4 linked regions of the Homo sapiens genome follow. The protein of the gene in region 1 interacts with the protein of each later gene in a pairwise test. Each region holds a gene or a part of one and is shown in the gene's direction. Other genes may lie near its edges. The genes, in order: MIEF1, ATP5PF, PRR4 and MAL2.

Evidence for each region.
Region 2: the proteins of MIEF1 (region 1) and ATP5PF interact in binary tests that used the Homo sapiens proteins (3 or more experiments, as listed by UniProt).
Region 3: the proteins of MIEF1 (region 1) and PRR4 interact in binary tests that used the Homo sapiens proteins (3 or more experiments, as listed by UniProt).
Region 4: the proteins of MIEF1 (region 1) and MAL2 interact in binary tests that used the Homo sapiens proteins (3 or more experiments, as listed by UniProt).

The regions. Positions count from the first base shown.
Region 1 is NC_000022.11:39,505,290-39,512,422, forward strand, and holds part of MIEF1 (mitochondrial dynamics protein MIEF1), read left to right. Parts: intron 1-4,132; exon of another isoform or gene 4,133-4,282; intron 4,283-5,998; 5' UTR 5,999-6,005; coding exon 6,006-6,149; intron 6,150-6,559; coding exon 6,560-6,737; intron 6,738-6,942; coding exon 6,943-7,133. UniProt on the Homo sapiens protein: Mitochondrial outer membrane protein which regulates mitochondrial fission/fusion dynamics.
Region 2 is NC_000021.9:25,724,637-25,731,904, reverse strand, and holds part of ATP5PF (ATP synthase peripheral stalk subunit F6, mitochondrial isoform a precursor), read left to right. Parts: intron 1-2,103; coding exon of another isoform or gene 2,104-2,110; coding exon 2,111-2,274; intron 2,275-6,554; coding exon 6,555-6,679; intron 6,680-7,227; coding exon 7,228-7,265; 3' UTR 7,266-7,268. UniProt on the Homo sapiens protein: Subunit F6, of the mitochondrial membrane ATP synthase complex (F(1)F(0) ATP synthase or Complex V) that produces ATP from ADP in the presence of a proton gradient across the membrane which is generated by electron transport complexes of the respiratory chain.
Region 3 is NC_000012.12:10,845,484-10,853,423, reverse strand, and holds PRR4 (proline-rich protein 4 isoform 2 precursor), read left to right. Parts: upstream 1-3,948; 5' UTR 3,949-3,986; coding exon 3,987-4,050; intron 4,051-5,016; coding exon 5,017-5,052; intron 5,053-6,056; coding exon 6,057-6,361; coding exon of another isoform or gene 6,362-6,379; intron 6,380-7,473; coding exon of another isoform or gene 7,474-7,480; 3' UTR 7,481-7,575; downstream 7,576-7,940.
Region 4 is NC_000008.11:119,212,331-119,219,598, forward strand, and holds part of MAL2 (protein MAL2), read left to right. Parts: intron 1-2,292; exon of another isoform or gene 2,293-3,297; intron 3,298-7,268. UniProt on the Homo sapiens protein: Member of the machinery of polarized transport. Required for the indirect transcytotic route at the step of the egress of the transcytosing cargo from perinuclear endosomes in order for it to travel to the apical surface via a raft-dependent pathway.

The DNA.
Region 1 (7,133 bases):
TCCTCCCTTCTCAGCCTCCTGAGTAGCTGGGACGCCAGGCATGTACCAATGTGCTCAGCTAATTTTTTATTTATTTATTTTTTTTGTAGAGACGGTCTTGCTATGTTGCCCAGGCTGCTTTCAAACTCTTAGCCTCAAGCGATCCTCCCACCCTTGCCTCCCAAAGCTTTGGGATTATAGGTTCAAACAGCTCTGCCTGTCCAGAAACTGCACTTTGTAGTCTGGAAACTTAAGTCTGATGTGGCCAGCATGGTACCCCTGTAAGGCAAATAGCCAGAGTTGAGGCTGGGCCTGGTCTGGAAGGACGTTGACTCCAAGTTGAGATTGTAATGTATATCTTCTTATGTGGGGACCATCACAGCTCTGTAAACAGAGGAATGACATAGCCACATTTGTATCGTAGAGGGAGCATACCAGTGGCAGTGTGAAGAATAAATTGATGAGAGATACTAGAGGCAGTGGATGTAGCCAGATCAGATTGAGGGACCGAGGGGTGGGGGTGGCCACATATAAACACAGTGTGTACAGCAGTGGGACTTGGTGATCAGTTGGCTGAGGCAGGAGGAGGAGAGAGAAAGATGAAGAGTAACTGGGTGTAAGGCCTGCCAGCTGGGTGGAGGGTGCTGCTTTTAACTGGGGGAGGGAAAGTAGGAAGAGAGCCTTATGTAATGACTTTTGGTTCTTCTCAGCCACTTAGGATTGGCATATCTGCCTTTGGCAGTACAGGGCCAGGGGTGGGGTGATGCCCATGGGAGCCTGTCTGCACAGGGAGGGTTGGCTAGCGGATCTAGGAGGGAATTAGGGCGTTCCTTGAAATCTTTGTGTTCCTAATATATTTTGGCTGTGAGTTGGGCTACACGCTGCTATCACTACCCCCTCAAAAAAACCAAGAAACAAAACGCCGTAGAGTTAATACTTCATTCCCACAACATATACTCCCTATGCATCAAACACTGCACACCCTGGGGATGCAGCAGTGAATGAGCCCAAATGTCCCCCAGAAGCATATGGTCTGGGGGTTAATGGAGTGGAGATGGGAACAAGGTGTGGAGCAAGTACCTAGGACCCCTGTAGATTAGTTCTCCGCACCGCGTGATCTCAGGGTTCAAATCTTGGTCACATACTTTACTGACACAGTGACCTTGGGTCAGTTACAGAAACTACTCAGTTTCTTCATCCTTTAAATTTGGGATAATATTACTGATCTCATGGGATTGTTGTTGTGAGGATTGAGGGAATTAATAATAAGTGTAAAATTGCCAGCACATAATACACACTCAATATCTGCTACCTAGTCTCGTACATACTCAAGCAAGATAGGTTTATAAAAAGGCCTATGGCTTTTTCAATTAAAATAAGTTGGAACTTTCACACTTCTGTGCTGTCATCCTAGGAAGCCGCAAGGCCTCCATTATTCATCATCCTTAACTATATTAGGGTGATGAGCATTTCTGTTCCCATTTTTGTATCTAGCGAGACAGGTTAAATAACTTGCCTGAAATATTGGCAGAGCTGAAATTCTCCATCCCTAGTTCTGCCCACCAGGTCTGTGTTCCTTCTTTGTTTTTTATTTTAACCATCTTAACCATTTTAAAGTGTACAGTTCAGTAGTAGTAAGTATATTCACATTGTTGGGTAACAGAGCCCCAGAACCCTTTTCATCTGGCACATCTGAAACTCTGTACCCATTAAGCAATGGGGTTCCTTCATGACAGTCCCGATTGGAGGTGGAGTTCTTACCTGCTAGTAGGCTGTAAGCTTATGCAGCAGAACCTGAGTGGAGAGCGTGTCATGGAGAAGCAGTTTAAACTGGAACAAGTTGAATTAACTTTTCAAGTAAGGTCCGTGTCTGTCTGTTGAGCTTGTGGATGCCGTCTTCTGTTCCAGGTCACCAGGTCTGTGATGTCAGTCCGTCCTTGGATGGTGGGCGGGGGGTGCCTATTGCACTACAGTAGGAAAAGCCTTTTTTTCTTGAGATGGAGTCTTGCTCTGTCACCCAGGCTGGAGTGCAGTGGGTGCAATCTTGGCTCACTGCAACCTCTGCCTCCCGACTTCAAGCGATTCTCCTGCCTCGGCCTCCCGAGTAGCTGGGACTACAGGCGCCTGCCACCACACCTGGCTAATTTTTTGTGTTTTTAGTAGAGACAGAGGTTCACCGTGTTAGCCAGGATGGTCTCGATCTCCTGACCTCGTGATCTGCCCACCTTGGCCTCCCAAAGTGTTGGGATTACAGGCGTGAGCCACCGTACCCGGCCGAAAAGGCTTAACAAGCTGGCCCAACTTAATAGTTTTGATCTCAGCTGTTGGCTCACGCCTGTAATCCCAGCACTTTGAGAGGCCAGGGTGGGCAGATCACCTGAAGTCAGGAGTTCGAGACCAGCCTGGCCAACATGGTGAAACCCTGTCTCTACTGAAAATACAAAAAATTAGCAGGGTGTGGTGGCTCATGCCTGTAATCCCAGCTACTAGGGAGGCTGAAGCAGGAGAATCACTTGAACCTGGGAGGTGGAGGTTGCAGTGAGCCGGGATTGCCCCACTATACTCCAGCCTGGGTGACAGAGTGATACTCAGTCTCAAAAAAAAAGAAAAAATAGTTTTGATCTCAAGTCCAAGATGGCATCACTGCGAATTTTCAAGGCCGTTTTAGAGCAGTCTCAAAAGGTGCACTGTCACTCAGAGGACAGTCTGGGTTGCTGACTGACTTCTGGAAGCTGACCTTTGTCCTGTGGATGGAAATCTTAAAAGACTAGAGGAGAACTCATTTGTGGAGCACTTTTACAGTTTATAGACCATCCACTGCAATACAGTTTATACCGTTCACATACAGGATTGCAGTGAATGGTTTTTCCTCACTACAACCCTGTGATTTGGTCCCACGCGGGGACCATTATCCCCTTTTCGTAGCTGAGGTGTTAAGTAACTCATTTGAGGTCACCCAGCTAATAAGTCAGGGCTCAAGGCAAGTTCTGTATCTCAGGATTTCTGACTCTAAAACCCACGCTCTGTTCTGTCATCTGTAGCACCACCTTGCTCTCACCAGTCATCAGAAGGGCACCAAGGACTAAAATGGTCCAGGGAGGCTGCTTCTGCCCTGAGTGAGGAGGTGCCCTTCTGGCCCTGCTGCATCACACTCAAGGATCATTTAGAGGGCACATGTGTCCAGTGGCTCTCCCTATTGTAAATATTTCAGTAAAGAGTTAAAACAAGAGACATTGTTATGTGTGGGGAAATGTATAGTGTTCTGCTTTTCTCCTGATTGGGTTATCTTGCCTCTGCTAAGTTTGGTTTGTCCCGTCTCTATCTCAGTGGCCACTGGAGAGAGGGTGTCTGCTGTTCTTCCCTGATTCCACCTGTAAATACAAACGTTATCTCTTCTCCCTGGCTTTGCTCTGTGCATTTGAGGTGGGAATGTACTCGGTTTGGCGAAATAGTCTTTCATGTCCCTAAACCTGAAGCCTCTATTGACTGTAAATGGTAGAGAAAAGGAAAGTACCCCCAAGGTGTGAACTCTAGTTAGGGAAAAAAATATTTTTGGGCTTGACAGTGACTCTTAGTTAACTCAATTACTGGAATAATAGAGTCAGAAATATTTCTTTGTTTTTCAGGGAGGTAGAGGCAGGAGCGTAAGATGTGGAAGCTAGAAATATCCACTTGTAACACGGTATTAGAAGGAATGTTATTTTACATGGAAGATAATCCTCAGTGATCCTTTTTTTTTTTTCTTCAAGACGGAGTCTTGCTCTGTCACCCAGGCTGGAGTGCAATGGTGATTCTCCTGCCTTGGCCTCCCGAGTAGCTGGGATTACAGGCATGCACCATCATGCCTGGCTAATTTTTTGTATTTTTAGTAGAGATGGGGTTTCACTATGTTGGCCAGGCTGGTCTTGAACTTCCGACCTCGTGATCCACCCACCTTGGCCTCCCAAAGTGCTGGGATTACAGGTGTGAGCCACCGCGCCCGGCTGATCCTGTCTCTTGATGTCCTCCCATTCTGGGACGCTAAATGGTATCCGACTTTGTTTTCCCTTATGTCATTCCTGGTGTGAAGGACACGGGATATTATAGAGGAGAGTGGCAGCATGCTGAGTGGTATTCCGATCTGAATCACACTGTCATCCTTTATCCGGCTCAGGCCCAGGGTTCTAACTCCACAGGAATGGGCTTATCTGGGGACTGCTGCTGCTGCAGTCAGGAAGACTCCACTGTAGTCGGGAGCAGCACTGGCCTGAGCACTGCACTGGAGGCCAGCCTCTTCGCTGTGGTGCCCAAGTACTTCTTTCAGGTGAACACATTTTTAGTTCCTCTTCCAGGTGTAATCGAGCAGATGGGTGTTTTGTTTTCCAGTTAGCAGTCGAGTCTGCAGTGTCCTTTGTGTTTTTTATCTCCCGGTATACCAGTCTCACCTAAGCTTTTATAGTCCCCGCTGCGCACTTCTCTCAAGAAACAAAGCATTTGTCAAGTAGGAGGGTCCATGGAGGGACCTTTCTCACATATGGACGTGTAGTTTCAGTTCCGTGTGCAGGATGTTTGGTACATGTTGTTTTGTGTTTTGTTTGCAGAAAGTAGATAGAATAAGGGCCGATTTGATTTGGGTAAGGGTGAGCATGGTACAGTAGAAAAAGCGTCATACAAGGAGTGGGGAGTCCTGAGTTCTGGAGATGACTGTGTCGTTTTGTTTTCGTTTTTGAGACGGAGTTTAGCTCTTGTTACCCAGGCTAGAGTGCAATCGTGTGATCTCGGCTCACTGCAACCTCCGCCTTCCGGGTTCAAGGGATTCTCCTGTCTCAGCCTCCTGAGAAGCTGGGATTACAGGCATGCGCTGTCACATCTGGCTAATTTTATATTTTTAGTAGTGACGGGGTTTCTCCATGTTGGCCAGGCTTGTCTTGAACTCCTGATCTCAGGTGATCCGCCTGCCTCGGCCTCCCAAAGTGCTGGGATTACAGGCGTGAGTCACCGTGCCCGGCCCATTTTGTTTTTTTATTTTTATTTTTAAGAGATGGGGTCTCACTCTGTCACTGAGGCTAGAGTGCAGTGGCGTGATCATAGCTCACTGTAGCCTCAAACTCCTGGGCTCAAGCATTCCTCCTGCCTCAGCCTCCTAAGTAGATAGGACTACAGGCATGTGCCACCATGCTCAATTTATTTTTATCTTTTACTTTTGGAGATGGGGGTCTTGCCATGTTGCTCAGGTTGGTCTTGAACTTCTGGCCACAAGCGATCTTCCCACCTCAGCCTCCCGGGTAGCTAGGATTATAGGCATGAGCCACTGCGCCTGTACCATTTCTTTTCTCTGAGACCTGACACATCACCTCCCTATGTTGAGAACCTCTGTGTGAGGTGATGTGATGGCATTAGATGAGCTCCAAGGTCCCGCTCAGATCTAACCTTCCACAAAGTAGTGGCCAAAGGACGAAGAAATGACCTGCATTATAACCCCTGTGATGGGGTAGAGAGACCTGCTTTATAACCTCTGTGAAGGGGTAGAGAGACCTGCATTATAACCCCTGTGAAGGGGTAGAGACCTGCATTATAACCCCTGTGAAGGGGTAGAGACCTGCTTTATAACCCCTGTGAAGGGGTAGAGACCTGCATTATAACCCCTGTGAAGGGGTAGAGACCTGCATTATAACATTGTGAAGGGGTAGAGACCTGCATTTTAACATTGTAAAGGGGCAGAGAGAGGGCTGTTTTGCATGGTGGGGTACTTCATTGTAATACAAAAAAGGACTGACACTGAGCTTAATGCTTTCTTAATCTCACTAGCTTGGGGAAAGTTTTCCTACAATACCCAAGATCAGCCCCTCCTCCTTGCATCCTGATCTATCATGGGACATTGTAGCTCCCTCCAGACCCTAAAGCATGCAGTGCTGGAGGCAAGAAGATTTGGGTTGCTGGAACTCACAGAGTACCCTGTACTTGTTGGGGTTTGGCTTGTTAGGGGAGGGAGGTTCTTGGGGTCCCAGTACTTATGGCCGTGTTCTGTCTTCATTCTCAGATGAGCAATGGCAGGCGCTGGTGAGCGCAAAGGCAAGAAGGATGACAATGGCATTGGCACGGCCATTGACTTTGTGCTCTCCAATGCCCGGCTGGTGCTGGGGGTGGGTGGAGCGGCCATGCTGGGCATCGCCACGCTGGCAGTTAAGCGGGTAAGTGCATGCAGCCAGGGCTGGGGGTGGAATGTAGTGGTATGGTCATAAGATGTAATGTTTTATAGAAAGAAAATGTCGAAGCGTTCTAGGAGGAAATGATCGCAATGATAAGTGAAAAAAACAGGTTTCAAAAGTATGTATAGAGTGATCGTCATTACATGCATCTAGAAAGAAACATACCAGATATTACAAACAGTTTTCTCTGGGTCATGACGTGGATTATCTATGTCTTATATCATGTAGTCTTCCCTGAGATTTTCTGCGTGGAGCAAAGTATTCTATAATCTAAAATAAAAACAAAATTACTAAAAGAACTTACTAGGACAGAGCTTCTGGGGAGGAAGTAAATTGGAAGGAAATAGGGAAAGAGGGCAGGTTTATGTCCTGTGTCCTCTCTGCTATTTCAGATGTACGATCGGGCGATCAGTGCCCCTACCAGCCCCACCCGCCTGAGCCATTCGGGGAAAAGGAGCTGGGAAGAACCCAACTGGATGGGCTCCCCACGACTGCTGAACAGGGACATGAAGACGGGCCTGAGCCGGTCCTTGCAGACCCTTCCCACAGACTCCTCCACCTTCGACACAGGTGAGAAGGGCTGCTGCCCCTCCTGGGACCTCTCTGGACTTTCAGTACCACTCCTGCACTCAGCAGATGTTTCCTGAGCACATCTGTGCCAGGCACTGTGCCAGCACTTGCCCTCCATGCCAGGCCCTTCTTTCTGGGGCTGAGGCAGCTGTGGACTGAGCAGGCATGGGCAGAGCTCACGTGCCTCTCTCTCTTGCCTTGGCAGATACATTCTGCCCGCCCCGGCCCAAGCCAGTGGCCAGGAAGGGCCAGGTAGACTTGAAGAAGTCACGACTCCGCATGTCCCTGCAGGAGAAACTTCTTACTTACTACCGGAACCGGGCAGCCATCCCTGCTGGAGAGCAGGCTCGGGCCAAGCAAGCTGCTGTGGACATATGTGCCGAGCTCCGGAGCTTC
Region 2 (7,268 bases), on another chromosome or scaffold:
CCATGTTTCCCAGGCTGGTCTTGAACTCCTGAGTTCAAACAATCCTCCCTCCTCGGCCTCCCAAAGTGCTGGGATTACAGGCATGAGCCACCTCGCCTGGCCTCTAAATACTTATATCTAATTTCTATATTACTTTAGACCAATAACATAGTTTGTATACTTCCACTAGTCCTATTATAACTTAGTAGAAGTCCGGTGTCAATGTGATGATGACAGTATTGCTATTAGGAAATTTGGGGAGGGCATGGGAAACATGTTAGCATATCAGATTTTCACTTGAAGATTCAGAAATTTTACCAGCCAGGGCAATATGGCAAGACCTCGTCTCTACAAAAAAAAAAAAAAAGTAAAAATTAGCCTGGTGTGATGGCACACAACTGTGCTCCCATCTACTTGGGAGGCTAAGGTGGGAGGATTGCATGAGTCCAGGAGGCTGAGGCTGTAGTGAGCCGTGTTCATTCTGGGCAACAGAGTGAGACCCTGTCTGAAAAAAAAAAAGATTGAGAAATTGTACCAGGCTGTGGTGCATTGTGAGCCTTTTGTCACCGTTCCAATATGGGGTTTGGCAAGCCCTGTCAGTTTATAGACTCGGCCTTAATCTGAGAAAAATGTATTCTACTAATTATTTATGGTCTCTTTTAATCATTTCCTTTTTTTTCTTTTTGAGACAGAGTCTTGCCCTGCATCCAGGCTGGAGTGCAGTGGTGTGATCTGGGCTCACTGCAGCCTCCGCCTCCTGAGTTCAAGTGATTCTCCTGCCTCAGCCTCCCAAATAACTGGGATTACAGGCACGCGCTAGCACGCCTGACTTATTTTTGTATGTTTAGTGGAGACAGGGTTTCACCATTTTGGGCAGGCTGGTCTCGAACCTCTGACCTCAAGTGATCCACCTGCCTCGGGCTGAAGTGCTGGGATTACACACATGAGCCACCGTGCCTGGCCCTCTTTATTCCTTTTCTTCTAGAATTCCTGTTTGTACCTATTTGTTGTAATTTGGATTATTTTTTGCATTTGATCTTTAAATCACTAAAGTAAATCTCAACAGGAATTGTCCTCTACTGAAATGTTTTAGTTAGAAAGTAATATATTTTAGCTTAAGGAAGTCTAGGGATTTGAAAGTCTTTAAGTCTTTTTTTTTTTTTTTTTTTTTTTTTTTTTTTTTTTTTTTGTGAGACGGAGTCTTGCTCTTGTTGCCCAGGCTGGAGTGCAATGGCACAATCTCGGCTCACTGCATCCTCTGCCTCCTGGGTTCAAGCAATTCTCCTGCCTCAGCCTCCTGAGTAGCTGGGATTACAGGCATGCGCCACCACGCCCAGCTAATTTTTGTATTTTTAATAGAGACAGGGTTTCTTTTTGTTGGTCAGGCTGGTCTCAAATTCCCAACCTCAGGTGATCCACCAGCCTCAGCCTCCCAAAGTGCTGGGATTACAGGCGTGAACCACTGCACCTGGCCATAAGTCCTTATTTTTAAAATTCAGACTTCCATCTCCTTCACCAATTTATTTCACTGATAAAGTTGGACTGCCGGATCCTCCCCACTGTCATGCACAGCTCATTTGGACTGGCTGCTGTTTTTCTTTGCTGGTTCTTCTGGACTTTGATTTAGTTGTTACAGTATTCTTAAATGGCTGGAATCCATTTGTAACAGGCAGAGCAGTTTCTCCCTCTGTGGGCCTGTGAAGTACACATTTTCAGGTTGTCATGCCCGGCTGAGGTATGGGAAACCTTGTACATTAGTTTGGGGGCCAGTGTACTTTTCCTGTTAGGAGCGGACAGTGTTGCAACAGTCTACCTCTACTGTTTTCTCTGATCCATGACTAAGTTCAAGGGGGAAGAAATACCTCACCTCACATTTTGTGCTCTAACCCTGATGAAGCTTCAGGCCTGAGTTTCTAACTGTTCCATTATCCCAGAGCCTTTTGGTTAAGACCTAAAAAACTTGCAATGGGGAATAAGGAGGAGAAGGGAACTGTGGTCAGGTATAGACTGAGATCTGATATGATGTAATTCTGTAGCAATTAGTAGAATTTGATTCTCATGATATATTTAGAGGTGATTTATAATAAGTATATTAACGTTTCTGCTGCTTGTTTTCTGTAACAGAATCAGCATGATTCTTCAGAGGCTCTTCAGGTTCTCCTCTGTCATTCGGTCAGCCGTCTCAGTCCATTTGCGGAGGAACATTGGTGTTACAGCAGTGGCATTTAATAAGGAACTTGATCCTATACAGAAACTCTTTGTGGACAAGATTAGAGAATACAAATCTAAGCGACAGTAAGTGAATAAATAACTACAGTGTAAATATAAATATTCAAAGTATGTAAGTTTCAAGGTGGTAATAAAAATGACTTGGTATTTGAAAGTATTAGACCTTCACTGAGCTCATCTCTGACATAGAGGTTCATTAGGTGCCCTCAAAAAAGAAGATAAGGATCTTGATTTTTTTAAGTCAGAAACTGTATCTTTATATGAGTTACAAGGGAAAATCCTACTAAATTTATTGCTGTTTAAAATACATTCTTACTGTCATGTCATGTATTATAAACCACATCAATTTATAGAAATACATAGGGTCTTGGAAATCATTTAGCAGCTAAGTTTGAAAAAAGTAACTCCCTTAGACATTGATTAGCCGAAGATCATAAAACTAATTGGGGAAAAATATATTATCAAAGTATATTTTAGCCTCAATTTAGTGGCCTTTCTGTGACATTGTAATTTGGGGGAAATGTATAAACACAGCTCTTTTTTTTAAAAGGCTATTTCCATAGTTACAGATCTCTGAGAATGTATATTAAAGGACAAAAGACTCTGAAATGACATAATGTAAGTCCAAGAAAAACAATTGTAGAACCATAGTTTTGGAAAGGAATGACCACCTTAGCTGTCATCAGGTCCAAACCCAAATCTTAGGAACAGTGAGGCGCACCAATTCATAGTTCCATTTTCTTTCATATAGTTGTCTACTGTGTGTAAAGCACTTGGCTATTAACCGTGATGGGCCACAGGGCATTTTTACAATATTCTTAAAGTCCGATAGGAGTAGAAAGCTTCTAAGCAAATAAATACAATATAAGGTAAAATGAGTTAGGTGCTAAGGTAGGGAAACGCTGGGTGCTTGGGGAGTTCATAGGAAAGAATACTCCTTTCCAGCTAGAGGCATTTTAGAGGCTTCTTGGAAGGCAGTGTTTGGGTACTCATCCCTCTTGAGAATCTCATGGACAACTGTGGATCATCTTCCCAGTTTAAAGAAAAAAACGTGAAGAATTTACTCACATCATTTTCCTTATAGCATGAAACAGTTCTCAAACCCACAGGAGGCCTTCAGTAGACCTGTACACCCAGGGGTTTACTCTAGGTTTTAAAGATCAGTGTATGAAGGTTGGACAGATAAATGAGGGTAAGAGGAGAGTATCTTTTAGGAGGAAAGAATGGTGTGAACTAAGGCATGAAAATGCCTTAGTTTGTGCTAGAAAGCACAAAATATATTTGGTGAATGGTATAATTCTATTTCCCTGGAGTATAGGGTATATGAAGAGTATAAGGATGGTATGGGGTTAGAATGAGGGATTATGGAAGGCCTTGATTGTAGACTGAGCAAGTAAGATATGTGGTAGGCATTTGTGAGAAATTACAGCTTTTTGAACATGACTGTGGGGATGGAAGATTACTCTGAATTAGGAGGATAATTTTAACCAGGGTATTGGAAGGATTGAAATGAGAAGAGAGCAAAGACAGACATGTTAGCAAAATGTAACCTAAGCATTAGTTGATGAGAACCTTGACTTTATAGCAGTGGTAATGTAAAAGTGACAGAGTCAAGACATTGAAACACTGATGCCTGGTTTTGGTGAGCTGCTGGAGAGGAAGAAGAGGGAACAATAAAAGAAAACTGACTTTTGAGGCGAGGTAACTAACAAAGGTGTTACCATTGCCAAAACTGAGGAGGAGAAATAGTGAAGGGATTAAAATGTAGTAAGTTACTCTGTGCTTTGTAGACATGGTAATGAAACTCTGACAACAACCCTATAGATGTTACCCCAATTTTATATATGAGAAAACCAAGGCTGAAAGTTAGAATTTGCCAAAAATCATACTGTTAAGTAACCAGATGTGCAGGACTCGTCAGGGAATTTTGAGTGTCTTCTGTCCAAATGTGGTGTTATATTAGAGTATTGATGCTGTTTGCATCATTTTAACTGTCTTTAAAAGCCTATCTAGTAAGAAGTGAATTCTTAGGTGTACCCTATATCTAAGGAGTCTTGTTTGTGGGTCATTCATTCGTTTGTGCAAACAAACACATGGAGAGTTCTGAGGGTAGACCCTGGGCTGGCATCCAGCACTGCCACTAATTAGCTCTATGACCTTGGGCAGGTTTAACTTCTGTAGGACAGTTTTCTCATATGTAAAAGGAGGATGATGGTAGTACTTACCCATTTCATAGGATATTATAAAAATTAAATTATTCAATACATTAGCATGCCTAGTATTTGCTAGTGAAATGAACAAGTATCTTCTGAGTGACTGCTTTGTCCTAGGCATCATGTGAGAGCCTAGGAATATAGTAATAAGCAAGATAAGCAGCAAGACTTACATTCAGTTGAGGAGGTAGATGATTTCTGGCCTCTTTTTATCACAAGAGTGCATATTAAAGTTAAAATAGCCATCATCCATCTGTAACCAGTATTAGAGTATCTAGTTGAAGGATCTATTTAGAACCGCAGTGTCCATTTTGGTTGCCGTTATCCATGAGACTATTCAAATTCTAATTACAATTAAGTGTATTTATAAATTCAGTTTCTCATTTTCTCATTCATGTTAGCTATATTTCTAGTGCTCAATAGCCAGATATGGCTAGTGGCTGCCACACTGGACAGCACAGACAGAGAGCGTTTCTAACATCACAAAAAGGTCTATTGGACAGTGCTAATCTAAAAGAAAATTGGGTCTCTAACAAGAAATATTGATAACAAGTTCTTAAATTGGAGCCACCTATGTATTTTTTGTGCATGTTCTTTAACTTAAATAAGACTGTATACTTTGATCATAGGCATGTGTAAAAATGTTATTACCCTTGAAGGAATTTTCATGTGTACATTTTTTTACATTTAGAATATTGTTCATTGCTAGGTAGGCAGTAGTATTTATGACAAAAACAGAAGAATTTCTTCAAAGAATTAATGAGACCCAGTTGGCCCTGCTGCTGGTCCATAATGCTATATTTATTTTCCCAAAATGCACAAGTCTAATTTTGTCATTTTATTGCTTGGCAAATAAAATACAAACTCCCAGGCTTAACATTCCGGGCCTCCCATGATCTGGGGTCTGCTGGTTTTTCCATCTAGACTCCTTAGCATTCCCCACATACAGCCAATCCCTTACCACCTCTATGTCTTTGCTTTTTCCATCTTAGAAGGTCTCAAAATAAACCCTGGCCCCAGATGCCTGATGTTTCTCAAATGCCACCTTTTTAAAATGAAATTTTCCCTGATTAGCTTAGCAAAAGTAATCTCTTCCTCAACTTGAATAGCTTTTTGTTAAATCATGTCTTTGAAGCTCATCACATCACTCCTTTACAGCATAAATGTTTGTAAACATGTAATTTTTTTCTTCGAAATTGCAAAATCTCTGAGGGTAGGAAATAATTTGCTTCTTTAATAGGACCCCTATGGTAGAAACTTAAAAGTCTAAGGTCTTTAAAAGCCATTTAGTGATGGCTGACTTAAAGCAGATGATATTAGTAGATAATAATTGAGTACTCACTGTGTGCCAGGCACTGTGCTTAGAGGTACGTGTGCATTTACACCCTCGTTTGGTAGAACCTTCATATTTAGTTGTGGAAACTAAAATTTAGAGTGCTCTGTGCCTTACTCAGGTTTACGCAGTTGCTGAATAGTTGAACTTACACTCAAACAGGACCAGTCTTTGACTCCAGAGCCTGTAGACTTAACGATACACCTTTTGCAACTTAGACCCTGAGAAATTCTGACTTAGTGAGTGTCCGTGATTCTGAGAAACCTTGAATGTTAGAGATTGGTTTGAGGATACCTCATTTATGTGAAACCTCATCGTAATAAAATAGTTTGAATTGAAATTGAAGTAGAAATACTTATTTTCTTTCTGAAGTCTTTTCTTTGACTACATGAATGCTTTAAAAAGGTCTATTGGCCGGGTGTGGTGGCTCACGCCTGTAATCCGAGCACTTATGGGAGGCCGAGGCGGGCGGATCATGAGGTCAGGAGATCGAGACCATCCTGGTTAACATGGTGAAACCCCCTCTCTACTAAAAATACAAAAATTAGCTGGGCATGGTGGCGTGTGCCTGTAATCCCAGTTACTTGGGAGGCTGAGACAGGAGAATCGCTTGAACCAGGGAGTCGGAGGTTGCAGAGAGCCAAGATCATGCTACCGCACTCCAGCCTGGCGACCAAGCAAGACTCCGTCTCAAAAAAGAAAAAAAAAAAAAGATCTGTTGGAATGTGGTGGTGAAAAGTAATTTTGTTTTTGTAAGCTAGTACACAAAATTAATTTTTGTTTGCTCATTTACTTAACAGGACATCTGGAGGACCTGTTGATGCTAGTTCAGAGTATCAGCAAGAGCTGGAGAGGGAGCTTTTTAAGCTCAAGCAAATGTTTGGTAATGCAGACATGAATACATTTCCCACCTTCAAATTTGAAGGTACGTCTTATAAATCACAGATTCATTCTTGTGGGGGATAAGTGAAGAATATTTACACTTACCTGGATTTTTAGAGAACTGAATGACAGTGTTGACATGTGAATTTATTAGGACCATGACGTGTGCCTGAGAAGCTGCCGGCTAAATGTTTGCTGTTAGAATAAGAGCAGTATAGGAGATCACATAACATAGTGATTAAATGGTGGGGATCTGAAATCGAACTGCCCAATCTTGAATCCTTATAATCACTTTCAGCTGTGTAATCTTGAGTAATTAACTGGTGCATGTCTCCTCATCTGACATTTGGGGAGAATTATAGTATCTTCTGCATATGTAGTTAAATGACATAATATATGCAAAGTCAATTAATGGAATGCATGGCTCATAGAAAGTGTTGCATAAATGTTTAGCTATATTTCTATGTAAATGTTTACAAACAGTGTTTACTAAAAAAATCAGAAAATTGATGAGTTAAATCTTGAGCATTCTACATAATCCATTTTATTGCAATTTGGCTAAGCTTGACCCTTTTTTCCCCCTCTTCTTAGATCCCAAATTTGAAGTCATCGAAAAACCCCAGGCCTGAAGA
Region 3 (7,940 bases), on another chromosome or scaffold:
GAGGAGGCAGGGTCACTGCAGGACCAATTATTAGACCATGCACAAACTCAGAGTTGTTGTGGCCCAAGCAGGCTGTAGTCCTGGGGGTGGGCCCACCACAGGACCAGTTTTCAGGCTGGGCACCAGCATGCACAGGCTCAGCAGACTAGCTGGTTGTGAGGTGTGGGTGCATGTGGGTGTCGTGGCTAGTAGGCAGATGGGTGGCTTCCCTGCTGTTCACTTCTTCCCTGGATTGGTGGTGCACCACATGGGTTCGGATGCCGGGGTCTTGATTAGTTTATCTGGCTAGGCTCTGGGAAGCTAGGGTCATGGTGCTGCAGATACCTGTATGAATGTGTTGGAATGATGGTGGGGCCTCAAGTGATAGAGAGCCAGGTGCTACTGATGCTCAAAGCAAGACACACTCTCTATGTAGGTTCAGTTTGGAGATGGCACTGAGCCATAGCACCTTACATTGCAGGGGCAGAGGGTGCTCAAGGTGGTCTCTTACTATGTAAGGCAATGCAGTTTGGAAATCCCAACTGCTCTCCAGACTGGTTTTTGTGCCAGTGAGAACAGTGGGGCAAAGATTGTTGACATTTTTTATGGCAATGTGGACCACTGGGGAACTACAGCTTACTTTTTCCTGTAGAATGGAGTTACTGATGACCCTGAGCCAACCTTGACTGAAGAGAGAGTATGTCAGAGGCAGGATGCTATATTGAGTTTCTGTACTTCACAGAGGTGTTTCTGTTCCCCTGGTGGTCTCCAGCATACTTTTTAAATCACACTGGCTGACATAAAATTGTTTGTTTTCTTGATTTCTTTTTGTGGGGAAATGAGTGCCAGGGAACTCTAGTCAGCCATCTTGCTGATGTTCTAAATTCTATTTTTAAAAGATCACTCTGGCTGTTGTAAGGAGAACTGCTTGGGATGTGGTGAGGGGCAGGAATGTCACCAAGATCAGCTGGAGACTGTTGAAAGTCCTCCAGGAGGGAGAATCATGGCTTGACTCAGGACCTTCTGATAGAGATTATGAAACTGATCATATATGGGATATCTTTTGAAGGTAGAACCAATTGGATTTGCTAAGGGCAGTACACGGAGGAGACTAAACAATCAAGAGTGACACTTATGTTTTTGAATGGTTGAGTGAAACAAATGTCATGAACTGAGAAAAGATTGTGAGGTGTTATCAGCTAAATTGTGTTCCCTCCAAACTCTCATGTTGAATCCCTTACCCCCGATACCACTGAATGTGACTCTATTTGCAGCATGGCCTTTAAAGAGGTGATTAGGTTAAAATGAAGCTGATAGGGTTGGTGCTAATCCCATCTGACACCTGTCCTCATAAGAAAAGAACATTAGCACAGACCACAGAGGGGTACCAGGGATGCACGTCTACAGATAAAACCCCATGTGAAGATACAGCAAGAACCGGCCATCTAGAAGTGAAGGAGACAGGGCCTCAGAAGACACCAAACCTGTTGACACCTTAATCTTGTACTTCAAGCTCCAGAACTATGAGAAAGTAAATTTCTGTTGTTTAAGCCACTTGTGGGGCATTTTTTTAGGGTAGCCATAACAAATTAGTATGAAGGAGAGCAGGTTTTAGGAAGTAGAAATCAAGAATTATATTAGGGGTATGTTAAGTTTTCATCTGTTGTAAAAGGCAAGTGGATTGCTGAGAGTGTCCACTCACCTACAAGTGCCTAAGCTCCTGCTGCAGTCCTGCTTCTCGATTTGACCCCACCCTCACTCACTGACAGTGTCTGTTTCAGCTCCTCCGTCACCTCTGTTGTGGTTGTGTGTGGTGAGATCATAGCTGATGTTTATTATTTCCTGATACATTAATCTCTTTCTCTCATTGCTTACACTGGAGAATGTCAGGGTAAGGGTCTGAGCTGAGTGATATTTGCAGGCATCACCTGTTGTCTTCCTGCACTCACCAGCCAAGGAGAAGCCTGCCTTCCACCAGGACTGCAGTTTCCTCAGCCACCCACACAGTGAATCATGTCTGCATGGCACGCCCCTCTGCTCCTTCTCGCTGACCTTCCTTTCCTACCTGATGGTCTACCATAAGCCACCTAGGCAGAACTACTTATCTCCACTTCCCATGTTAAACAGTGTCTGGTGAAATCAGAGGCAGCAATCCTAGTAACACAGCTGGGTCTGTAGGCCCAAACAACTACTCTCTCTCACCCATAAAACCCTAAAGCACAGCTAGAACTCTTCTGCTTCCCACATAGAGAAGAATTGCTAACTCATAATATATTTCACCTTCAAAATATGTCCATAATTATGCCAGAGAAAATATTTATTTTTTGGTCACTTTGCCAAAGTAAAGTTATCCATAACAAACACCATTGATTAGAAAATCTTCCTGTAATATTACCTCCAACCCTTCAGAATTGCCAGACCAGACCTTCATCTGCACAGCACAGGATCCACTTATCCACAATGGTCAAGAGGCCTGTCTTTAAGATTTCCAGTCACATTCCCCCGACCCTGTCATACTTCCAACCAAGCTATCCTCAAATTATCACCAGCCCTGTACAAAAATGTAACAATAATACGAGACCTATACAATGCCTGTAATGAAAAGTGGCAGCTGGTGATACTGATTGATCTAGGGGTTCCATGAAAATATAAGCAGAAAACTACTAGATAGGACAGAAAAATCAGCAGGTGAAGATTAAGCTACCAACTCAGGACCCTACCAAACTTTTCAGAAACACAAAACCTTGGTGCCAAATTTTAAAAACAAAAAAGAAGAAAGCAAGCAAAGAGAAGTACAGAACCTTGTTTAGAAAATCAAATAAAGATTTCTCCCAGAACGCATGAAGAAAGCAGTAAGATATAAAACATAGACATAGGGAGGATTGATTCACAATATAACATATCAACAAGTAAGGTTCAGCACAAGAGTGAAGAAGAATGAGTATAAGAATATTGCAGAGAAAATAATCTTTGGTAAAGGCAATCTGAGAAGCAAATAGAATGGAAACTAATTAAAAAATAGAAAATCAATGTAATACTTGAGGCTTTCAACAGGCTATCATACTATCTAATTAGATTGTATTATTGTGTCCACTCAATAACCAGTGTGATTAAAATATTTGGTACAAGAAGTAAGACCTAAACTGAATCATATAGAACATTCTAGAAAAGAGAAAGATCATGGAAGAAGTCTTAGGGACATAAAATAGCATGGCTTGTTCAAGGAACTGTGTATTCACACTGTTCTGATGCAGAAATCTAATGGTGCTTTCTGTGGCCAATTTTGCCTTACTAACCTCCAGGGTATTAATAAAGATAGAATGTTTTAATACCTGTGTTCTACAACAATAAAGTATCTCTGGTTAATGCTAGATTAGGAGAATCTTAATCTCTTTGGGCCAGAGTAGCCTGAGGGTAAAACTTCTGTCATCCACGTGTGCCCAAGTGTGTGTTGTCCTCACACAACTCAACATTAAACAGAAATGATCTCTATATTATTATGAAATTAAGCTACATATCATCCATATAGGTATATATGCTATAAAAATGGAATTTATGCTACACTAATAGCTAGAGATATTAATCATTTTCACTTCTGGCTATAAGATCACTGCTGACAAACATATACAAACGTAAGCACGTGTGCACACAGACAACCAATGAAGGGGAAAGACTAACTGTCTAACCCAATTGAAAATCAAATGATGACCAAACTTCAATTGTAGTATTTGTGCTGATTGCTTGGATACTGTTTCTTCAGAAACTATGCTCAAGTCACAGTTTGTACCTAACCACATCCTACCACCACATCCTGCTGGGCTAAAATCCCAAAAAGTAATAAGAGACGCATTCAACTTTATGAGAGGAAAGCAAAACCTAATCTTTCAGGTGGTGAGGTCCACCCAGTATGGAGCTCAAAGGTGCCATTGTTCTGCTCATGTTTATAAAGGGAGCTGCCATGTTTCTCTCAACGCAGAGTTGGGAGCAACTCCAGAGCCTCCTTCAAGATGCTGCTGGTCCTGCTCTCAGTGGTCCTTCTGGCTCTGAGCTCAGCTCAGAGCACAGATAATGGTAAAAAAATTATTTTTTTAAAAAAGGAGATGGGGAGTGGGATGAGGGGCCATGACTCTTCTAGGGCCTCAGGGGTTCACCCTACACCACTGCAGCGGAAGAGCAGGAGGGGAGGAAGGAGGTTGAGAAGAAGGGTAGGGCTTTGGAGCTCTCATTCCAAGGATGACATCTGTTGTGCCCTCATTCCATGCCAAGGCCTTATACTTTATTTGATATACACTTGGAACCCAATAGAGAATTTCAATTAGAGGAATGACAAAGTAAGATTTGTATTTTTAGAAAGACCTGGCTGTGCTGTGAAGGATGCAGTGGAGAATGCAAGACTGATCCAGGGAAGTCCAGCTATGAAGATGCTACAGTAATCTCAGTGGACAGCGATGATGGTGTCCTTGCTGTACAGGGGATGCAGAATCAATGAAAGAGATAAACAAACATCAGAGTACTGTCAGACATAGAGGACTGGATAATACATTTGTGTCTTTCTACATAGTGGTATAGAAATATCAGGTCCCCAAATTCCCATTTTTCTTCCAATCACATTTAAAATTTCAATATGTTGCAGGCAGCATGTGTAAGATTATATCCAAATATTTACTCCTGGTTGCTCCTCTTGGGCAAGCTTGTGAATATGATCAAAATATTTAAAGAAGGAAGAAGGTAAAGATCTAAAATATGACATGAAAATACCCAGAGAAGTGTGCCTAAATTAGCATTAGGGTTTGAGGGATCCTAAGGATGACAAAAAGGGACTCTTCTATTGAATTCGTGGTTGATGCTCAGCGATAGTAACAATCCTGCCTCCCCTAACATCTTCCTCCCCTTCCAGCAGCTTCACAGAACATGGTTGATGAGGTAACTTAGGGGATGCACAGGGTGTGGCCAGAAGACCCCTTTCCCTATAGACCACTATGAGCCCTGAAAGATTTATGAGGTAATGTTCACTTCATCCTGTGCTTCTTTTCCTAGATGTGAACTATGAAGACTTTACTTTCACCATACCAGGTAAATCCCAATGATCCTCAATCCAATTCTTTTCTTTCTTTTTCCACTAGAATTTCTTTTTAGTTTCCTTCAGTGTCTTCTTCTCATCATTTTTTTGGGAGGAGGTGGTAAGAGGGGTCAGGCATTGATTAATATTAGTGCCCCTAAATATATAGGCAATTCTTACCCATCTTTGATTCTGGGGACCATGAGCCAGGCCACCAACTTGAATACAGAGATGCCTGGCTTTGAGGACAATAGGAGTGGGCAGGCTTTTTTCCCAGGCTGGAATGACTGCTGAGAGATGATGAACAAATGAGAAGTGTTCTCATTCTGACTCCTCCATCCTTAACTGCTTCTTTCTTCCCCCAGTGTTCCCCCGCACGGTTATGTGGCTTCAGGGAGTAACACAAAACAAAACAAAAAAATCACTGCATGAATGTCTTTTCTCTGTGTTGACCCACTCAGCTGTGTCACTACAGATGATAAATAGTTGCCACAGCTGTTTAGTGATCATGTGCAGGCTTTCACATTGTCTTTCTCTTCTGTCTCTTAGTATTTCTCTACTTGGTTCCAGGAGCCTGGGAAATCAGCTCTAGTTTCCACATAGGGCTTAGGTGCCCAGAGATGGAGTCACAGTTTGTAAGTCATTACAGCAACCAAAAAATAAAAATAAAAAATAACCAGTAACATAACTGAAAGCTATAATGCTTTTGCTTTTTTTTTTTTTTCTGTCCTTGGAGACATCCTCTGGCAACTCTAAGATATGCAAGAACCCCTCTTTTCATTTAAGGAAACATACTTGTCACAGGAGCAAATAAATGAGACTTTCCATATCACTCTTACATGGATTAAGTTGAGAGCTGCATAAAAAGAAAAAAAAAACAGTGGGCACAAAAGAAGTTGACAGTCAAGCAGCAGGTTTGGGGAGAACAGGGCTGTGTGGTAAGGTGAGAGAAGTATAAAGAGAGGAGAGTTTTTCTTCACTGAGCTCATGCATTCTTGTCCATTAATTACTCACACAGATGTAGAGGACTCAAGTCAGAGACCAGATCAGGGACCCCAGAGACCTCCTCCTGAAGGACTCCTACCTAGACCCCCTGGTGATAGTGGTAACCAAGATGATGGTCCTCAGCAGAGACCACCAAAACCAGGAGGCCATCACCGCCATCCTCCCCCACCTCCTTTTCAAAATCAGCAACGACCACCCCGACGAGGACACCGTCAACTCTCTCTACCCCGATTTCCTTCTGTCAGCCTGCAGGAAGCATCATCATTCTTCCAGAGGGACAGACCAGCAAGACATCCCCAGGAGCAACCACTCTGGTAATCTAGAATTCAGTGGCAGGTATGATTCCAGTTCATTCTCCATTAAATGCCCAAACTGCTACCATTCCCAAACTTTATCGTGTTCACAAATCAATTGGAAATATGTTGAAATTACATAATCCTGGACCCCATTTCTAAAGATTTGTATTCAGATATTCTTGGATAAGGTTGCAAGTCCTTGTATTTTTAACAAGTGGTTCAAAGAATTCTTATCTTTTGAAATACTGACCTCCCCAACTTTTTTCTTAAGATGACTTGTCTCATTAAAATGAGTTGGTAATGAGGAAGTGGGGTGTGCTCTCCCTTTGGTGCTCTGCCTCCTGTCTTTGAGTCTGCCTTCTCAAACCCAAGGACTCTCCATCTCAGGTTTCTCTCAGGTTTCCGCCAGAGGACTCTTTGCTCAGTCCTGCCTCACACTAGCCTCTCAGGTCCAGTGTCCCTGCTAAATGATACTTGAACTTGATGCTCTTATATCTTATTTAATTTTTAAAATACTTATTTTGAAATTAGTACATGCTCAAGGAAAAAAAAATCTAACTGAACAGAATGGTATGAAGCTAAATCTTAAAGTGACGCCTTATCCTACTTACCCACACCCTTCACCAAAAGTCACCACCCTTAATTTTTTGAACATCCTCCTGGAAATATTTATATGTATATAAGCATACGTCATTATTTTTCCCACAAATGACATATTATTTTATATGCAGATCTGTATTTGCTTATTTCAAATAATACATGTCTTAGACAACTTTATCATTTCACGGAGACCTATAGATCTTCTTGGTGATTTATTTGTACATTTTTCTTTTGTTGTTACAATTGTATACTATTCTCTTGTGTGACTGTACCATGATTTCCTCAGTCAACCACTGTTAATTGATATGTAGGCTTGTATTAGTTTTTCACTACTACAGGTTCAAGTTGCAGTCATTTTCATAAATATAACCTTGAATGTTTTGAACAGTAACCAAAACATAAACACCATAAAAAAATCTGTTTTCTTAATCTTGAAAGCAATAATTTACTTCAGTAATATCATCAAGGAATTAGATAAGTTTTGCCATGTTGTATGTTGTGTATAAATTTCCTTGGTTTTTTTTTTTGTTTCAGAAAATAAATAAGAAGATAACTTCCTTCAGAAAGCCATGACATTGAAATAATGTGGTCATAACTCTTTCTTCAGTATACCAATAAAATATTAATAGCATGCAATTTCTGATTGTTGCTTCTCTTTGTGGGTGTTTCTGAGTCTAGAATTTGAGGGCCATTAATACAATCTAAGAATATCTGGGACTCTTGCTCATTGATGCTTCCAGCAGGCTTCCCTCCTCCTTTATCTTAATAAAGCCAGCTGCCAAGGAGAAAGAGTTCCATTGTTCCCCTTCTGTCCTAGATTGCATAGCACAAATGCAAATTCTTAAAATTATTTTTACATCTTTCATTGATATTCTTGTAACTCTAGGAAAACAAGGAATATATAACAAATGAGAGGGAGTTGCAAGTGCTGGGGAATTCTTAAAATTTCCAAAACTATTAATCCTGGTTTCTAGGGGCATAAATGTAGTTCTAGATCTCTT
Region 4 (7,268 bases), on another chromosome or scaffold:
CCCCAAGTTATTCATTCACATTTATCTTTGTGGGAGATACTCTAGGATTCTTATTCACATGCTTCTAACTGCAGTGTTTTGGATGCCATAGTAATTTTCATTTACTCAGCTTATAATTAAGAACATACTATGCATCAAGCCTTCTTTTATGCCCTGAAAATAGAGTAACTAACATGGCTCCTGCCCTTAAAAGAAATTACTGTTTGGTGGAATATAAAGTCAAGAAAGAATTACCATGCTGTGTATGAAGTGCTAATATAGGTTTATAAAAAGTATTGTGGAACAGCAGGATAGAGTACATCTGACTTCTGGAGAGGTCAGAACAGGCAGCTTTAATGAGGTGGGGACATTTGAGGTTAGCCTTCAATAATGAGCCATGGTTCATTAGAAAATGGGAAAGAGAATTCCAGGTAGAAACAAGGACACGTACAAACACAGAGACAAGAAGGACAATGGCAAGAACGTTCTGTCAGTTGTGAGATTTTGGTGGGCCGTGGCAGAAAAAGGAAAAACAGCAGGTAGGACTCAGGTTCTGGTTTGCTGAGAAATGCTAGGCCAAGGCATTGGATTTATTGTCTGATGGAAAGCTGTGAAGGACAGAGAGAAACTTGATCCAGCTTGTGTCTTAGAAACCTTTGAGTGATGAAGTTTGGTTGTAAAACAAAGGGACTGAAGGCAGGAAGAGCAGTTAGGGGGCTTATTGCAATAGTTTAGATAAGGGATGAAAAGAACCTGAAATAGAACCAATGAAAGAAGGATGGAGAAGGAGAGAGAGAGGTTTGAGGTTTGGGAAGTCAATTAAGTATGTAAAGTTTGACTTGCCCCAAAGTGATACCTAGACTAAACTTAAATATAAGATGTAACTCAGAGGAATTATGCCAGAAAAACAAATGTTAATGAAAGGATGATTGTGAGGGAGGGACTTTAGGGGAGGCAGGTTCAGTCATGCAGATAAATCTATGAAAGGGACTTCAGGTTATTTTCAACTGAGAGCTTTGACTTTGGACTAGTAACATGTATATGTTCTGATGTATAGAGTTTATTGCCTGGAAAATGTTGACTGTGAAGGGACATTGCTTATTTGCAGTGTGCAAGAGGGAGCTGTCCATGGACATAGTTGTCCCCTAAATGGGTTTTAAAACTGTAGGTATTTTTTTTCCTTTGCCTCTGGATTAAAAATCTTCATCCACATTAAAAGAATCTTTAGGCCGGGTGCAGTGGCTCATGCCTGTAATCCTAGCACTTTGGGAGGCTGAAGCAGGTGGATCACCTGAGGTCAGGAGTTCAAGACCAGCCTGACCAACATGGTGAAACCCCCATCTCTACTAAAAATACAAAATTAGCCAGGTGTGGTGGCACATGACTGTAATCCCAGCTACTTGGGAGGCCGTGGCAGGAGAATTGCTTGAACCTGGGAGGCAGAGTTGCAGTGAGCCAAGATCGCACCATCACCCTCCAGCCTGGGAAATAAGAGCGAAACTACATCCCCAAAATAATAAATGAATAAATAAATAACCTTTAAAGTTTCATAAGGGAAAATAAACCAATGCCCCTGCCAGAGATTATTATCAACAATCATTTGCTCCGACTGGCAGTCCTTTAAAAAAAAATACGAAGAACTGAAATATGGAAAACTTTAAACCAAGTAGCTGAAAAGATTCACCTTGAGCTCCAAAGGAAAAAGTCATAGAGAAGAGATTTGTTTTGTAGAGCCTGATAGAAATGTTGTACGTGGTGGTAGGAGCTGTGGACATGGTGTATTTGCAGTGATATGGCTGAATAGAAATGACCCTGTAATGACAAAGGACAGGAACCAGGTTGGCATACCCAGTATCATGCACATGCAGTACTTAACAAATGCTACTTGTTTGTTCTATAGTACAAACTGAGCAGTATGTGAAAATAGTCTGGAGACATTGGCTGGAGTGGAGAAGGGCAGCTTGGGAGTAGATGCCCTCTTAAATCTTGCCCAACATGTAAACTGCCATAATTCTTCTCCAGGTTTCTGCACTTTAACTTGAATTTCCTAAGTGTTCTATTTTATATAAGAGTACCATATCCTTTTATAGACAACATATATAACAATCTCAACTTCTGTATAATAGCTATGAGAAGGAGGAAGGTAAAAAGAAAGGAAAGAGGCAGTGATTTATACGGGTCTGGCCAATATCAGGGCATTGGCACGCAGGAACAGCTTTAAACTAAAAGTGATAACTAGTTACCTGCAAACATGAAAAGGGAATTTTCAAAATCGAGAGGAATTATTATAAAGAAGAATAAAAAGAACCAGAACATATTTCTCCTCTGTAATATGAGCTTTCCATTTTAGGGTCGGTGTCAGCTATTTAAGCAGCTGAATTGGAGGTTTAGGTCACATGGGGAGGAAGAAAGTATAACTCTCTATAGCACTCTCAGACATATTTTTAAAGCCTTCAAATGTAAAGCTAAAAAGTAGAACTTCTTTTGCAATGAGTATTAACGTATTTTGGTCATAAGCCTCTTATGTGTATGTCATTTCTCATTACATCCCAGAATTTGTTCTGTTTTCCTAACTAACTAAATAAATAAACACCTTGCTGCCTTGCATCTCTAATGCAGGTCTATGCCAGGGCCAGTCCAGAAGCAGTTTGGACAGAAGTCAGCATGGTTAGAGGACAGATGGGGACTGATGAGGGGAGCAGGAGGCACTGGAAGAAGGCACAAGATTTACCCTGGTCAAAAGTTCCAGTGGCAGTTACAATAGAAATAGGTCATGTGGGCAAATTTGGGGCCGAAAAAAGATTTAAAATTGGGTGTCATGAATTCAACTGGCAAGAGGTACAAAGTTTCCCATAACTTTCCATCTCAGCCTCCTGAGATCTGGTACTAGGTGGTGGGTGTCACCAATAATAACTTGAGAATTGAGAAGTACATATTCTCGCTTCACTCGTTTTCATGCCTATTTTTGGACATCCACCATGAACCAGGGAGTGAGCTGGGCTCCAGACCGGAGTGTGTTCCTAGCATCCCAAGCTGCACTCCTAGAGCATTCTCTTTTGGAACCATTCATTACACATGCCGGTTGGTTTCCATTCATTTCAAGGAGGATGGATTGAGGACCTTCTGTAGAAAGCACCACCCTGGGTAATGAGCATACGGAGATGTTGAAGGCAATGTCACCGACTCTGACGTCACAGTCTAGTGGGTGAAATGGGCATGTAGATCCATGATTTTGATCCAGTTGTAATTGCTGTGGAGAATACACGCGTCAGTAACCGTGGAAGCACCGAGGGATGGCACCTGGCCAGGGAAGTCTTTCTGGAAAACATGGTAACTGGAGTTTAGTTATGCAGCAGAATTTTTACTGGCAGCATGCTAGGCAGAAACATGGTCAAGTGTGATCATTTCTCTATGCTCAGGGGATGAGGGGTAGAGGCTGGAATGCAAAGAGAGGGTGGTAGGAAAAGAAGCATTACAGGGAAGATGATGAGCTTGGGGAGGGGGGCAGCAGTATGCCTTGTAGTGGTACCAGTGATCTACAGTCGCATTGTGAATGAATCCATACTTGTGTGGGCTGCTTTGTAAATACATCTACCAGTTATATTGTATGTGTTGGCTAAGTATGTTTCTAGTTTAAGGAAATCTTTCAAAATGCGAATTGTATGTAAAATATAGCTAATTGTAGATAATCTTTTTTTTTCTAGCTGATAAATTTCTGAATATACTGAACACTTCTATAACCATGATGTTTCCTGTGCAGCACCCCATAAGTAAACATCCATTAAAATAGAAGGGGTTACAAGTAGATAAAGTGTTCTGAACTTCTGGGTGGGGGGGCCACATACCCCTTTGTGATTCTGATGAAAGGTGTGGACTGTGTCCTCAGAAAAATGCATATGTACTTGTCCACCCAATTTTATATGATTTTAGGAAATCATATGGAATATGGGTAGAAACCCTGCTTTAGAATGAACACTAAACCATGAGAGGGGCAGAATAGCAGAATGTTAAAATCATAAGTTCTGGAAGCCAATTGCCAAGTTCAAATTTCAGGTCTAACACTTATTAACTATATAACTAGGAACAAGTTATGAATGGATTTGTACCTCAATTAACTTACCTATAAAGTAGGAATAATAATGTTGTCTCTCAAGGTCTGTGAGGATTAAATTGGCACAAATAAAACCCTTATAACGGTGCTTATAACATAAGAGCTCAGTAAATGTTAAGTACTATTTCTGCTATCACCATTAGCTTCAACTTCTTACTCTAACTCTACAAGCCAGACTGGAAGACAAATATTTTTTTGCTTTTCCTCTATGTTTGCTGGGTGTTCATTCTCACTGCAGTAGAATAATGAATTATCCAATATATAGATAATAGAATTAGAAGGAGGGAGCTTAATACGGAAAGTTCTAAATAGTGTTTTCCCTTATGGGTAGTTTAGCCAGCCTTTATCCTTTCAAATTCACTTACCTTTTCCTGTTCTCATTCCAAACATTAATTGAAAATAGGTCACAGTAGAAATTAGCCGGTTTACTTTGTGGGTATACTAAGATGGAGGTGTCAAATTGGTTTGAAAAAATTTTTAGCTGTCAGAGGGTATGTTTAAAAGCAGGTAATTAGGAAATAAGTGACATTTGAAAAGAAAAAGGGCATTTGCAAAAGGAACCCTTTGGGAACATAAGACCGTCCAAACAGGAGATGAGTTAAGAATCTGTAATTCATGCACCCAGAATTGCAAGAGTTGCTACTTGCTCAAGAGCATGTTTTCCCGTGGGACTATGTATTTTTCCCATTCCACAGTTTCTAGTGAAAACATGTCTTCACATCAAACCCTGAGGATTCAGTTTAGTGTGATTTGTGGATAAATACTTCCGTGGTTTTCTTATGGTAGGGTTTCAGCCAAGTCATACCTTTCTGGTCTGCAGAGACCAAGCAAACATAACAAACATGTGTTAAACCAGAAAGAAGATCAGTTGTTTTAGGAATGTGTAGCAATTTAATAACTGCAACTCAGAATATATTTGAGTACTTCTGGTATGTACCCAGTACACCTAAAGTTGGGTTAAGAAGATAAAAGGTGACTGAGTCACCGGGAGATGCTGATACCTACTCCTAGGAGGTTTTTACCTTTGTATTGCCTGGAAGCAAAGGTAGTCTTTTTGTTAGAGCTTGAGGTTTGACGTCATAAGCACTGACTTAGTTTCTTAAAGAAATTTCAAATTGAGGTGCCTTTGGCTATTTTATACATAATTATTGGATTTTTTAGAACACTAGAAAGCAGTGGAAGGCAGTGGCAGGGAAGGGGTCAGAATATGGATTCAGATCCAAGACGATGAGAATAACGTGGGCGAAACATATAATAGTTCCGAATACCTTTCTTCACAGTGTGTACTCTGCAGTTGCTACTGTATTTATCATCTGTTCTCTGTCAGATTTAACCATTTTTGTGTTCTGCTTTTTACTTCTAAAAATATGGCCACCTCCAGAGTCGTCTCTACTGAACAGGAATGCTGATAATTACACCGTTTTGCAAACACTCTAAGCTCACTAATGCCCGGAATTAGAGGAAGTGAATATACTGAGCATTGGTCATCTCAATTTTTTAAGTTCAGTTTTTTAACTTAAAAAAACTGGAGCCAAGTTTAAGTTGGAGCCAAGTTGGGAAGCTCAAGAAGAAAAGTAGCTTTTGTCAAAAGGAAATCACAAAGTAGGGAATAATAACTGTGTCAAGGCCAGAGTGATCCATACACCAGTATGACAGTCTCAAAATGAGGATGGTGGCCCTCCAAAGTGGGCTCAATTATGTTCTCTGGCCCATCCTCTCTCTTCCAAAGCGAGCCTGGATTTCACAGAATCTCAGCTCTAGGGATGTATCATATGTATTTACTTGAGTGAGAGAGAGGGGGCATTCCTACACTCCTTCCCTCTCCCCTTTCCATGCAGCACATACCCCACAAGTGAGGAGGTGAATCTGACTCCTGTTCATGCAGCATTTAGTTTCCCTTCCAAGCCTTTGAGGTGTTTGAAGGGCTGTAATTTTGAGTACGATAAGAACGGTTAGTCTATACTATTTTACAGTATAGCCTCTGCTGTCAAAGCCTTGGTCTGTCTTGAAAGCTTACTCTGAAGCCTGCCTCCCCTGCCTACCTTTCCAGATTCTTCCCATTATATTTCTTCTCTCCTCTCCCCTCCCAGCCTCTCAGAACACACTGTGTTGAGCTCTTTTTATAGCACCCACCGCAATCTGCTCCTGAATCAGTTTAATAGTGTCTATTTCTTCCTTATTTCAAGCTCCTGGAGATGGAACCTTGCCTTTTTTGTTTTTTCTTGAGTGTTCTTCTATAGTACCTAGCAGTAGGTTCGGGGCTGGCCTGTTTGAGGTCCAGTCTGGGTTTAGTAAATGCTGTGTTGAATTCCAAAGGATCATATAGCCTCCTCTTTAGAGGTGTGAATGTATCATCATCCCTAACTCATTATGTTTATCTATTTGGCTCTGCCTGTCCCTAACAAACAGTGGCCAATTGCTTTTTATTATCCTTTATATTTGCACATAGGTTCTCAGGAAATAACTCAGAAGAGATACTTAATGTATATTTCTTAAACTGTATTTAAAGTTATGTAGGTTATTCTTTGTGGGAGAGTAAGAAAAGACTACCAGAAAGAAGAAAGTGGAAAAAAAGGAAAGATTGATCCACTGAAGACATACTTATATCGCCTTCAGATATTTATTTAATAGTATGTAAAGGTAAATAATATTAGGAACAAGTTTTTTCTTTTATAGGCACTGATAAGGTGGTGGTTAAATGTTTAAGATGCACTGATATTCATTAGATTTATTTCATAACACTTTCTGGATCAATTGTTAATTTTTTATTTGACTTTAGGAGTTGAGGTATACACCACAACTATACATTTTTTTAGACTGGTGATTTGATTATCATTGATCAAGTGATCATTTATGCTTTCAAAAATGTTTCTTCAAAGTAGTAACAAATTATATGATTGGGCCTTTTCTTGAAGCTTGAATTAAAACTTGTGTTTTTAACTTTCAGTGACTTGTGGAGTAATTTGGATATCTAGATACTGAAATGCAATGTACAGATGAGTATTGATTTTTAATATTTGGAGCTCCAACTGTTCTCACATGAGCACTAGCTTGTTTACTAAGCAAATAATTTAAGAGCGTGCTCTATCACTCTCCCTGGGTGTGTGTGTGTGTGTGTGTGTGTGTGTGTGTGTGAGAGAGAGAGACAGAGAGAGAGAGAGAGAGATTGATTCTCACT